Linked DNA regions of Homo sapiens: all the other regions are reported to be linked to region 1. Evidence: microRNA targets listed by miRTarBase, many of them from high-throughput screens and not tested one by one. Region 1 holds a microRNA gene; each other region holds the end of a gene's coding sequence.
What was found. Region 1 holds the annotated microRNA hsa-miR-6879-3p (UGUCACCCGCUCCUUGCCCAG, at 1,297-1,317, shown strand). A microRNA usually pairs through its seed, bases 2 to 8, with sites in the 3' UTR of a target mRNA and lowers its output. Matches are read on the target gene's strand: a 7mer-m8 pairs with bases 2 to 8, a 7mer-A1 pairs with bases 2 to 7 and ends in A, and an 8mer does both.

Region 2: miRTarBase lists TCF15 as a target of hsa-miR-6879-3p. Seed matches in the 3' UTR shown: 7mer-A1 at 828-834.
Region 3: miRTarBase lists TMEM250 as a target of hsa-miR-6879-3p. The part of its 3' UTR that is shown has no 7-base or 8-base seed match.

Annotation. Positions count from the first base shown.
Region 1 is chr11:65,017,254-65,020,500 of GRCh38, forward strand. MIR6879 (microRNA 6879) reads left to right here and starts at 1,252; the gene lies at 1,252-1,317. ARL2 (ARF like GTPase 2) reads left to right here. Exons shown (of 5, transcript NM_001667.4): 2 at 1,111-1,221; 3 at 1,318-1,480; 4 at 3,166-3,246. ARL2-SNX15 (ARL2-SNX15 readthrough (NMD candidate)) reads left to right here. Exons shown (of 11, transcript NR_037650.2): 2 at 1,111-1,221; 3 at 1,318-1,480.
Region 2 is chr20:601,928-605,174 of GRCh38, reverse strand. It overlaps TCF15 (transcription factor 15), which reads left to right. Exons shown (of 2, transcript NM_004609.4): 2 at 510-918. The coding sequence ends at 584. Among named protein-coding and RNA genes, the nearest start is that of TCF15, 6.8 kb to the left of the region's middle.
Region 3 is chr9:136,113,816-136,117,062 of GRCh38, reverse strand. TMEM250 (transmembrane protein 250) reads left to right here. Exons shown (of 2, transcript NM_152833.3): 2 at 39-2,474. The coding sequence starts at 163. The coding sequence ends at 582. Among named protein-coding and RNA genes, the nearest start is that of TMEM250, 3.4 kb to the left of the region's middle. RefSeq lists an enhancer at 1-242.

The sequences.
Region 1 (3,247 bases):
GGTGTGATCTCGGCTCATTGCAACCTCTGCCTGCCGGGTTCAAGCAATTCTCCTGTCTCAGCCTCCCGAGTAGCTGGGACTATAGGGGCCCGCCACCACGCCTGGCTGATTTTTGTAGTTTTAGTAGAGATGGGGTTTCACCTTGTTGGTCAGGCTGGTTTCGAACTCCTGACCTCAGATGATCCACCCACCTTGGCCTCCCAAAGTGCTGGGATTACAGGTGTGAGCCACCGCGCCCGGCCTATTTGCTCTTTTTAAGGTGGGAGAAAGAACGGCAAGCTCATCAGCCAGTGGGAATGATCAAGAGGGGAAGGAAACATGGATGATGGCTTGGGGGCAGGGGGTCATCAGCGGCTAGGTTCCAGGGGCTAAGGCTGGGCCTCAGGGGAAATGCCCTCCTCACCCCTCTCCTGGGCCTAGGTCATTTGCCCCAGCTCCGATGAGCAGGGAAAGGTGGTCGAGTCCAGGACCCGCCCACCCCACCATGCCCAACTGAGCTGCAGTGTTGGGAAGATAGAGGAGGGTGGTTCCTTCCACAGGTAAGCACACCCATTAATTTGCACTGTGCAGTAGCAGGTCTGGAATATTCCAGAAACAAATGAGGGTGGCTGCCTCCAGATATTTGTTCTTACCTTAGTTCTTCAAAAAGCTTGCTCCTTGTATTTTGGGTCTCAGCTCCAGACACCTCAGAGAGGCCTTCCCCGGCACCTGAGCTGAAAGAGCCTCCTCCGATGGCCCTCTTGGAAAGCCTCTCTGTTGTGTTGATGGCGCTAGCCGGGATCTGGCAGGGCCTTCTTTTCTCATTTGTTTGTACTTTATTGACTGTCTTCCCGCTAGAGTGTAAGCTTCCTAAGGGCAGGGCTTTGTCCTCTAGCACCCAGAAGAGGGTCTGGCACATAGTAGGTGTTCAACAAATTAAGGAGCCTTTGGTCAGTAGAGATGATATTTATAATTTGATACTTTCATATTTATTGTGGGCCGATTATGGTCAGGCATGTGCTCAACTCAGTTTGATACATGGTGGGAAATAATGAGTCCCCTAAGGGGCTCTGCAACAATGTCACCACCTGGCAGAGAACAGGGACTTCTCCTTAACCTGCTGCGCCCCAGTGGCCTGGACAATGCTGGAAAGACAACCATCCTGAAGAAGTTCAATGGGGAGGACATCGACACCATCTCCCCAACGCTGGGCTTCAACATCAAGACCCTGGAGCACCGAGGGTGAGCAGGGGCCCCATGGGAGGGCCAGCCCAGAGCAGGGCAGGGAAGGTGGGAGAGGGGCCCAGCTGACCCTCCTGTCACCCGCTCCTTGCCCAGATTCAAGCTGAACATCTGGGATGTGGGTGGCCAGAAGTCCCTGCGGTCCTACTGGCGGAACTACTTTGAGAGCACCGATGGCCTCATCTGGGTAGTGGACAGCGCAGACCGCCAGCGCATGCAGGACTGCCAGCGGGAGCTCCAGAGCCTGCTGGTGGAGGAGGTGGGCAGCTCCTACCCTTTGTGTACATGTATGGACGTGTGGCTGCCTTCTCAGCAGATGCCCAGAGGGGCCCGTGGCCCCAGAGGGAAACCAGAGGCAGGATCCCTTCCTTCTCTGGGCCCCCACCATGGGAGGCCCATGGTGCCAGAGGCAGGACACATGCTGTGGACTGAGATTGAGTTAACGTCCCTGTGGTGTTACTACGTCACTACCCTGAGCATCAGTTTCTATGCCTTGAAATGGTGATGATGACACCCACATCACTGGGCTTTAGGGAGGATAACCCAAGGCCAGTATGAAGCTTCGAGAGGCCATGGAGCCTGGCTCAAGAGTCTGACTCTTTGCTGTGTGACCTCAGCTGGGGGTGGTGGCACGCACCTATAGTCCTAGCTACTCTGGAGGCTCAGACAGGAGGATCAGTTGAGCCCAGGAGGTTGAGGCTGCAGTGAGCTGTGATCGTGCCACTGCACTCCAGCCTCCTGGGCGACAGAGCAAGACCCTGTCTCAAAAAAAAAAAAAAAGGAAGGGGCCAGGTGCGGTGGCTCACGCCTGTAATCCCAGCACTTTGGGAGGCTGAAGCGGGCGGATCACGAGGTCAGGAGATCGAGACCGTCCTGGCTAACATGGTGAAACCCCGTGTCTACTAAAAATACAAAAAATTAGCCAGGCATGGTGGCGGGCGCCTGTAGTCCCAGCTACTCAGGAGGCTGAGGCAGGAAAATGGCGTGAACCTGGGAGGCGGAGCTTGCAGTGAGCCGAGATTGTGCCACTGCACTCCAGCCTGGGCAACAGAGTGAGACTCCGTCTCAAAAAAAAAAAAGAAGGACACTTGCAAAGATAGTACAGAGGTCAGAGGTCCCCCATATACCCTTTACCTTGCTTCCCCATCTTACCTAACCGTGGCCTGTCCAAACTAATAAATCAACACTGGTGAATTACTATTATCTTAATTACAGATTTTATTTGAATTTCACGTTTTTCCACTAATATACTTTTTGTGTTCCAATGTTTGATTCAGGCTACAAAATTGCATTTAGTTGAAAATGAGGACACTTGTGAGAGTGAAAGGGGGGATTCTGCAGGCAGAGTGGGGACTGTCCTGGGCACACCGCACACATCTCCTATGTGGGTGGAGCAGGTCAGATGAGATCAGGGCCGTCAAATGCTGGTCAAGGCAGGTCAAGGCCCAAGGGTTAGACCCGTCCACCCACATCTCTCCCAATCACAGACACATATGTGGAAACAACTAGAATCAGAGGTGGACAGTGAGGCCTGTCGGGAGTGGAACGGTTAAAGGGCTGTGTGAACCCAGAAGAGGGAGAGTTCACATCCTCTGTGCATGTCTGGTCATCAGATTGGAGCAGTCTAGAACCACGGAGAGCTCAGGGATCATCTTATGCAACACCCCTCCCTGTTCATGGAAGAGGAAGCTGGAGCATGGGGACAGCGGTGTCCCCTGGGTGGTGGTTGGCTGGAACCAGAACCCTGGCCCAGGGCTGCTCCATTCATGTGGGCCAGCCTTGATGGCTACGTCCACAAACTCACTCCTGGGCCTCTCCCACCACCACGGGGCCTCACCTTGATCTTCCAGGTCGATCCTTCACCCCAGATGCTCTGGGCCATTAGAGGAGGGGTCAGGCTGTCCTCTGAGTCCCCACCCCACCCCTCTATCTTTTCTCCCCCAGCGCCTGGCCGGAGCAACCCTCCTCATCTTTGCTAATAAGCAGGACCTGCCTGGAGCACTGTCCTCTAACGCCATCCGCGAGG
Region 2 (3,247 bases), not on the chromosome of region 1:
TAGCGTGAATACAAAAATTAGCCGGGTGTGGCGGTGGGCCCCTGTAGTCCCCGCTACTCGGGAGGATGAGGCAGGAGAATCACTTGAACCCGGGAGGCAGAGGTTGCAGTGAGCTGAGATTGTGCCACTGCATTCCAGCCTGGCAACAGAGCAAGACTCCATCTCAAAAAACAGTATAGCATGAGAGAGCCTCCCTCCCATCCTCTCTCCATCATCAAATTCCTCTCTGAAGAAACCCACTCACAATTTCCCGTGTGTGCTTCTCCCCAGCAATCACAGCACACAGGCGCATTCAGCCTGCCCCTTGCTTTTGTCCCTAAACATTGTCATTTGGCAGCAGTCTGTATCAGTCCAGAAAGGGTTTCTTCTGCTTTCTGTTGCAGAGAACTTGATCGTGTGGCTGAACTGTGATTTATTGATCAGGATCCCTCTTGAGGGATACAGAGGTTAGTTCCAGTGTTCACACTGGCCTAATCGAACCTCTTTATACTCTTTCTCCCCCTCTGCAGGGTGGCCGTCGTGACCTGGGGGGCAGCTGCTTGAAGGTGAGGGGGGTGGCCCCCCTTCGAGGGCCACGGAGATGAGCCTGGACCCTGGAGAAGGAGGCCAGGAGCCAGCCACTGGCTGGACAGGGAAGAAGACCCCAGGAGCCAAGCCCACCCCTTCTTTGTGTAGGGACCGGGGGACCATGGCCTGTTCCGGGACACTCTGGGCAGGGCCCTCGGGACATCTCCACCCGATCCTGGAGAGCTGTGAGGATCCATTCAGCCTGCCCAGCTCTGGCTGGTCAGAGACAAGGCAGAACTTTTGGAAAAACAAAGACTGTTGGTGACAGGGTGTGTGTGTATCTGTGCGTGAGTGTGAGTGTGTGTGAGAGAGAATTGGTGAGTTTAAAATAAAAGCTATTTTTAAATAAAAGACGTCGTTCTGAGCTGAGGAGAGTCCCGTGGACATCGGAGGTCAGAGGTGGGCCCTCCCCTGGACCTAGAGAGAGGCACAGATGTTCTGGGGGCTGCCCTGAGCCCTGGAAGGGTGGGGGTGGGGCGGGGGAAGGCAGGCAGAGCCCCCTCTCCGGGCGCCATAACCAAACTTTCCTCAGTCTGCTGTTTATCAGATGTTCTTAACAACTGTTAGGTGTCTGATATGGTTGGTAAAGAAATCTTAATTTTACTTATTTTTGAATAAGGCCTGTGTTCATTTCATTCACATGGTTCAAAACTCAGAAGGTACCAGAGGGTATGTGTTGAAAAGTCTCCGTGCCCCTGTCCTCCAGCCACCAGCTCTCCTCTCTGCAAGCAGCCTAGGGCACCAGTTTCCTGTGATGTCCCATTCACTATGAATGATCAGGCAAATACACAAATGACAGCACATCGTACACACTTTTGGCTCCTTCTTTTTTTCCTTAATCTAGCTTGGTATCATCCCAAGTCAGTACCTAAAGGGTATTTCATTTCTTCCTGAGCTGCTTATTATTCCATTTTGTGAACATGCCATCCTTTAACCCATCCCTCTTTGATGCGATCACCAACAAGCCATGTGGTTTTCCACAAGTGCAAATGAGTGCATGCTAAAGGGGAATATTCTTACCCCTGTGTTAGCTGAAATGCTTTAGAAGACCGATGACACCCAGAGGCACGTGGCAGGGTGACACCCTGAGGTCCGTCCACCTTTGAAGCCCAGAGCAGCTCCTTCCTTGCCCTGGAGATGCCCCAAGTGGAAAGCCAGCACCTGTTACCCCAATTACACTCCCAGGAGCCCTGGGAGGTGAGAGCTGGTGTCTTCCCCACTGCAGACCCAGCAGAGACAGCGATGCGTCAGCTGATCAGTGCAGCTAGGAGTTCTTGGCTCTCGGGCTGGGGCTGTGTCCCTGTGAGGTCAGGATCAGAGAAGCTCGAGAGGCCCGAGGGTGGGAGAGCCAGGGAAAGGCCAGGGCAGCCAGGCAGCCACCCTCTCCTCAGCAAGGTACATTCATATGCCTATTTCAACAGTTTATTTATTTAACAAACACTTTTATTTTTATTTTTTTAGAGACAGGGTCTCACTATGTTGCCCAGGCTGGTCTCAAACTCCTGAGCTCAAGTGATCTATTTCATGTTTACTGACTGCACTCTGGCCCCAGAGTCCACGTTCGTATCCCCTCTGTTCTGCCTCTACCCCACTCCCCTGCGTTTGACCATCTGAGCCTGAATTGTGGCTCCGATTTTGCAAATTGACAAACAGATTGTCAATACCCTCTGTGTGGCAGGCACTGTGCCAGATGCCACAGGAATGAGCCCGACCAACCTGGTCTTCCTCACAGATGAAAACCGAGGCCCAGGGAGATCAAGGGAGTTGTGGAATTGCCAGTCCCTAGGCTGGAGCAGGCCATGAAATTACCATGCTTAATTCCTTTGGTGTAAGAAGTAGAGGAAGGAGGGCCCCAGGGGGCCGGGGTCCCCCACCCAGGAGAGCTTTCCAAGCACCCTCTACCTCACTTCCCCGCTGTTTCAGGAACACTGGTCGTGCTTATCCTGTGTCCCAGCGTGGCTGTGCTTCCCCCTTTGGGAGCTGATTAGGAAAGCACATTGCTCCCCCTGCGCCTACCCTCCCAGGTACAGCCAGCCTCTGGCAAAGCCACAGGAAAAGGACTGTGGCCTTGTCAATGGCAGGAAGCCTGGGAGTGGGGGCAGAGCAGACACTTGGGTGCTCTGGCTGGAGGCCCACTCCGCCACCAGATTTGCTGGGTGACCCCAGAGATGTTGCTTGACCCCTCTGGGCCTCCCTGGCTCAGTCTCTAACTAGTAAGAGCAGCTAGAACAGAAAGATAAGTATTTGTTTTGCTTTGTGAGATAGTTTTTAATAGACCCTGTATGCACTGGTAAGTAATCCAAGTTGTATCAAATGGTATGCAGTGAAAAGTACAGACCTCCTCAGGCCCCTCCCCAGAGGCAGCTTCCTGAGTGTCCTTCCAAAAAAGCTTCTATACTGATAACTGTTTCTGAAAAAATATTTATAGGTTTCTCTGCCTGTGCTTTCATTGTAAAACAAATTCAAAATGCTATAAGACTCTAGAAATATCACTTATCCCAGAGACAGCCACAGTGAAGACGATAATCCCACCGAGTATTTTTTGTTGTTTTGTTTGAGATAGGGTCTCACTCTGTCACCCAGGCTGGAGTGCAGTGGCACAGTCATAGCTCGCTGCAGGCTTAACCTCCTGTCCTCAAGTGATCCTCCCACCTCAGCCTGCGGAGTAGCTGGAAATACG
Region 3 (3,247 bases), not on the chromosome of region 1:
TCCTCATACTGACGTGGGTTTTGCGGCTCTCCCCGCAGGCCGACGCCTCCCCCCAGGGTCAGCTGCGGGCTCCCAGGCCTAGGCGCCCATGACCCCTACGCCAACAGCCGCCTGGACACCGCCGCCGCCACTGCGACCTAGCGCCGCCGCCGCCGGGGCCCAATGCCGGTCATGCCCATTCCGCGGCGGGTGCGCTCCTTCCACGGCCCGCACACCACCTGCCTGCATGCGGCCTGCGGGCCCGTGCGCGCCTCCCACCTGGCCCGCACCAAGTACAACAACTTCGACGTGTACATCAAGACGCGCTGGCTGTACGGCTTCATCCGCTTCCTACTCTACTTTAGCTGCAGCCTGTTCACTGCGGCGCTCTGGGGTGCGCTGGCCGCCCTCTTCTGCCTACAGTACCTGGGCGTTCGCGTCCTGCTGCGCTTCCAGCGCAAGCTGTCGGTGCTGCTGCTGCTGCTGGGCCGCCGGCGCGTGGACTTCCGCCTGGTGAACGAGCTGCTCGTCTATGGCATCCACGTCACCATGCTGCTGGTCGGGGGCCTGGGCTGGTGCTTCATGGTCTTCGTGGACATGTGAGGGCCGTGGGTGCGAGCTTGATGTATCGTCCCGGCCTGTGGCTGTGTTCTCTCCATGGGTGGGGTCGGCCAGCGCCTTCCCTTCGCCCATCCCCCAGGCAGTCGCTGCTGCCCGGCGCCCACGGAGAGAAAAGAAAGGGCTGAGACTTCTGTGATGGGGGCGCGGACACCACCCCTAGGCTGGCTTCCTGGACCCACCCTCCCCGTATGCACTCTCAGGGGCAGCGCCCACCTGCCGGTGGCTCCTGCTCACATGTCTTCGGGTCGTACTGCGGGGTGGGCCCTCCGTTCCGCCTCTCTGTGGGCCTCTCTCCAGGACCACAGCTGCCAGGGACTTTAGACATCACCCTGGGAGGCCCCTGGACACAGAGGGCTGTGTGCCCAGGAGCAATTCCGGAGGGGGGCCCTCCTGGCTGCACAGCCCCTTCTGCGTGCCCTGGCCCCAGCCCCAGCCAACGGGACACGGAAGGCTCCCCTCGCTGACACACCACACTGCCACAAAGCTGCTTACTCTGCCCTGGGCCGCCTGAGGCCTGGCACTGCCCGCGGACCACCCTGTGTGTGTCATCCTGAGGGGCTGTGTGGGTCCTGAGTCCCCAGCCAGCCTTCAGGGTCCCCTTGGATTGTGTAGATGCAGTCTAGCGGGGGGCCGGAGAAGGGCTCAGGTGGGAGGGGCCTCAGCAGGCTCCCAGCTCAGGGGCTGGCCTGGGGGGAACCCTGGGAGCCAGGGGCTGACTCCAGCAACACTGGCCTGTCTGCCTGTTCTGGGAGGGCTGTGAGGATGTCTTGCAGATGCTCTGGATTTCTGCGGAGGCACCTCCATTCCTTTCTGGCTTTTTTTGCGGGGGAGGGCTTTGGGCCTCTTTCTTTGAGGGAACACCGTCAAAGAAAGCCTGGGAGATCGAGGCTTCAGTGAGCCAGGATGGAAACGCGTGTCCCAAGTGTCCGGAGCAGGCGGCAGAGGCCTCAGTGCGGCAAACACAGCCCCAGAGCCTGTGTGGCACCAGCAGCATCTTAGAGCCCCAGGTATATGCTGAGATCTTATCTCACGCTGTCCTCCAGTGTCTGGGGGGCCCAAATGATGGCACAGGGGCAGGTGGGCTGGAGGGGCGCAGATGCCTGTGTTCAGGGAGGGTGGCCACCATGGGCCGAGGTCTCACCCAGGACCCCTTGCTCTGCTCCTCAGCCTTGCAGTCACGGCAGCACTATGGTGGACTGCCCATGGCCGTGTGACTTTGGGGGCAAGTGGGAGGGCGCCCTGAATAATGATTGCAAGGACAACAGGCAGAGGCTACCCTAGAGCAGGACACAGGGTGTGGTACTGACAACCCTAGTGTCACCTCAAATCCATGTCCCCACACTCTGGGCATGGGTGGGACTTGTGACCCTACCCTGTCAGGCGGACCAGTGGCCCAGGAGCCATGAGGACAGTTGTGTGCCACTGGAAGAGAAACTTTTTGAAAAACCCTAAATCAGGTAGAGAAAGCAAAAAATCTCTGGCCGTAAACCGTGCTCTCTAATTTATCGGCAGCTTCTGTGGATGACCTCTGATGAGCCCGGGCTGCGTCCACGCCCTGGGCAGGTAGGCGGGAGCTTCCCTGCGTGGGCCTCATTTCTTGCTGCAGAGAATCTTTTGCACTAAGTCATGCTGTTTCCTCAAAGAAGCTTTGTTTTTTGTTAACGTATTACTCAGAGTCACCCAAGCCTCTTGGCTGAGGGTGAAGGTGGGACGGGAGGCGGGAGGGGGCTGGTGGTGCCGCTCGTGCGGTGTCAACGCTGCAGGGAGTTGTGGCACCTTGGTGCCCTCTGAGCACCTGGCCGCCTGCTGTCCCCGGTGCCTGTGAAATTCGTCATGCCATGACCCACCTGCATTAAACCTATTTTTTTAATGTGTTGATGGAGTGATTGCTTAAAGTTCAATTGTTTTATTCCGTTTTGAAGGACATAATAATCACCCAGAGCACCATAGAAATCATCTTGTGTAAGATGGGAAAGTTTTCCCAAACACTTGTTGCCGTGCTGGGGAAGGAGCCCCTGAGGCCAGGGTTCTCCTTATGGGAAGCTGCCCTGGGGAGATAGCCTAGCTGACAGGCAAAGATTTGTCAGCAGGGCAGTCACCGGGACACTGCTGTGCAGGCCGGTGGAGGTTGCATTCGGCTGACTGGCCCGTTCAGAGTTTTTTTTTTTTTTTTCAGATGGAGTTTTGCTCATGTCAGCCGGGCTGGAGTGCATTGACACGATCTCAGCTCACTGCAACCTCCACCTCCCGGGTTCAAGTGATTCTTGTGTCTCAGCCTCCCAAGTAGCTGGGATTACAGGCGCCCACCACCACGCCCGGATCATTTTTGTATTTTTAGTAGAGATGGAGTTGCGCCATGTTGGCCGGGCTGGTCTTGAACTCCTGACCTCAGGTGATTCACCTGCCTCAGCCTCCCAAAGTGCTGGGATTCCAGGCGTGAGCCCCTCCACCCAGCCTAGTTCAGAGTCTTAAAGCTGAGGTGGTGTTTCCGACGCTGCTGAAAGGAAAGAGGCCTCAGGGCTGTGAGTAAGGACAGCCCGATCCACCTCGGGAAGATGCGCACACACGAAAAAAGGTTGGAAGAAAAATAAAACCAAAGTTCTTATTTATCCAAAAAAACCGTTTGAGGCCAGGTGCAGTGGCTCAC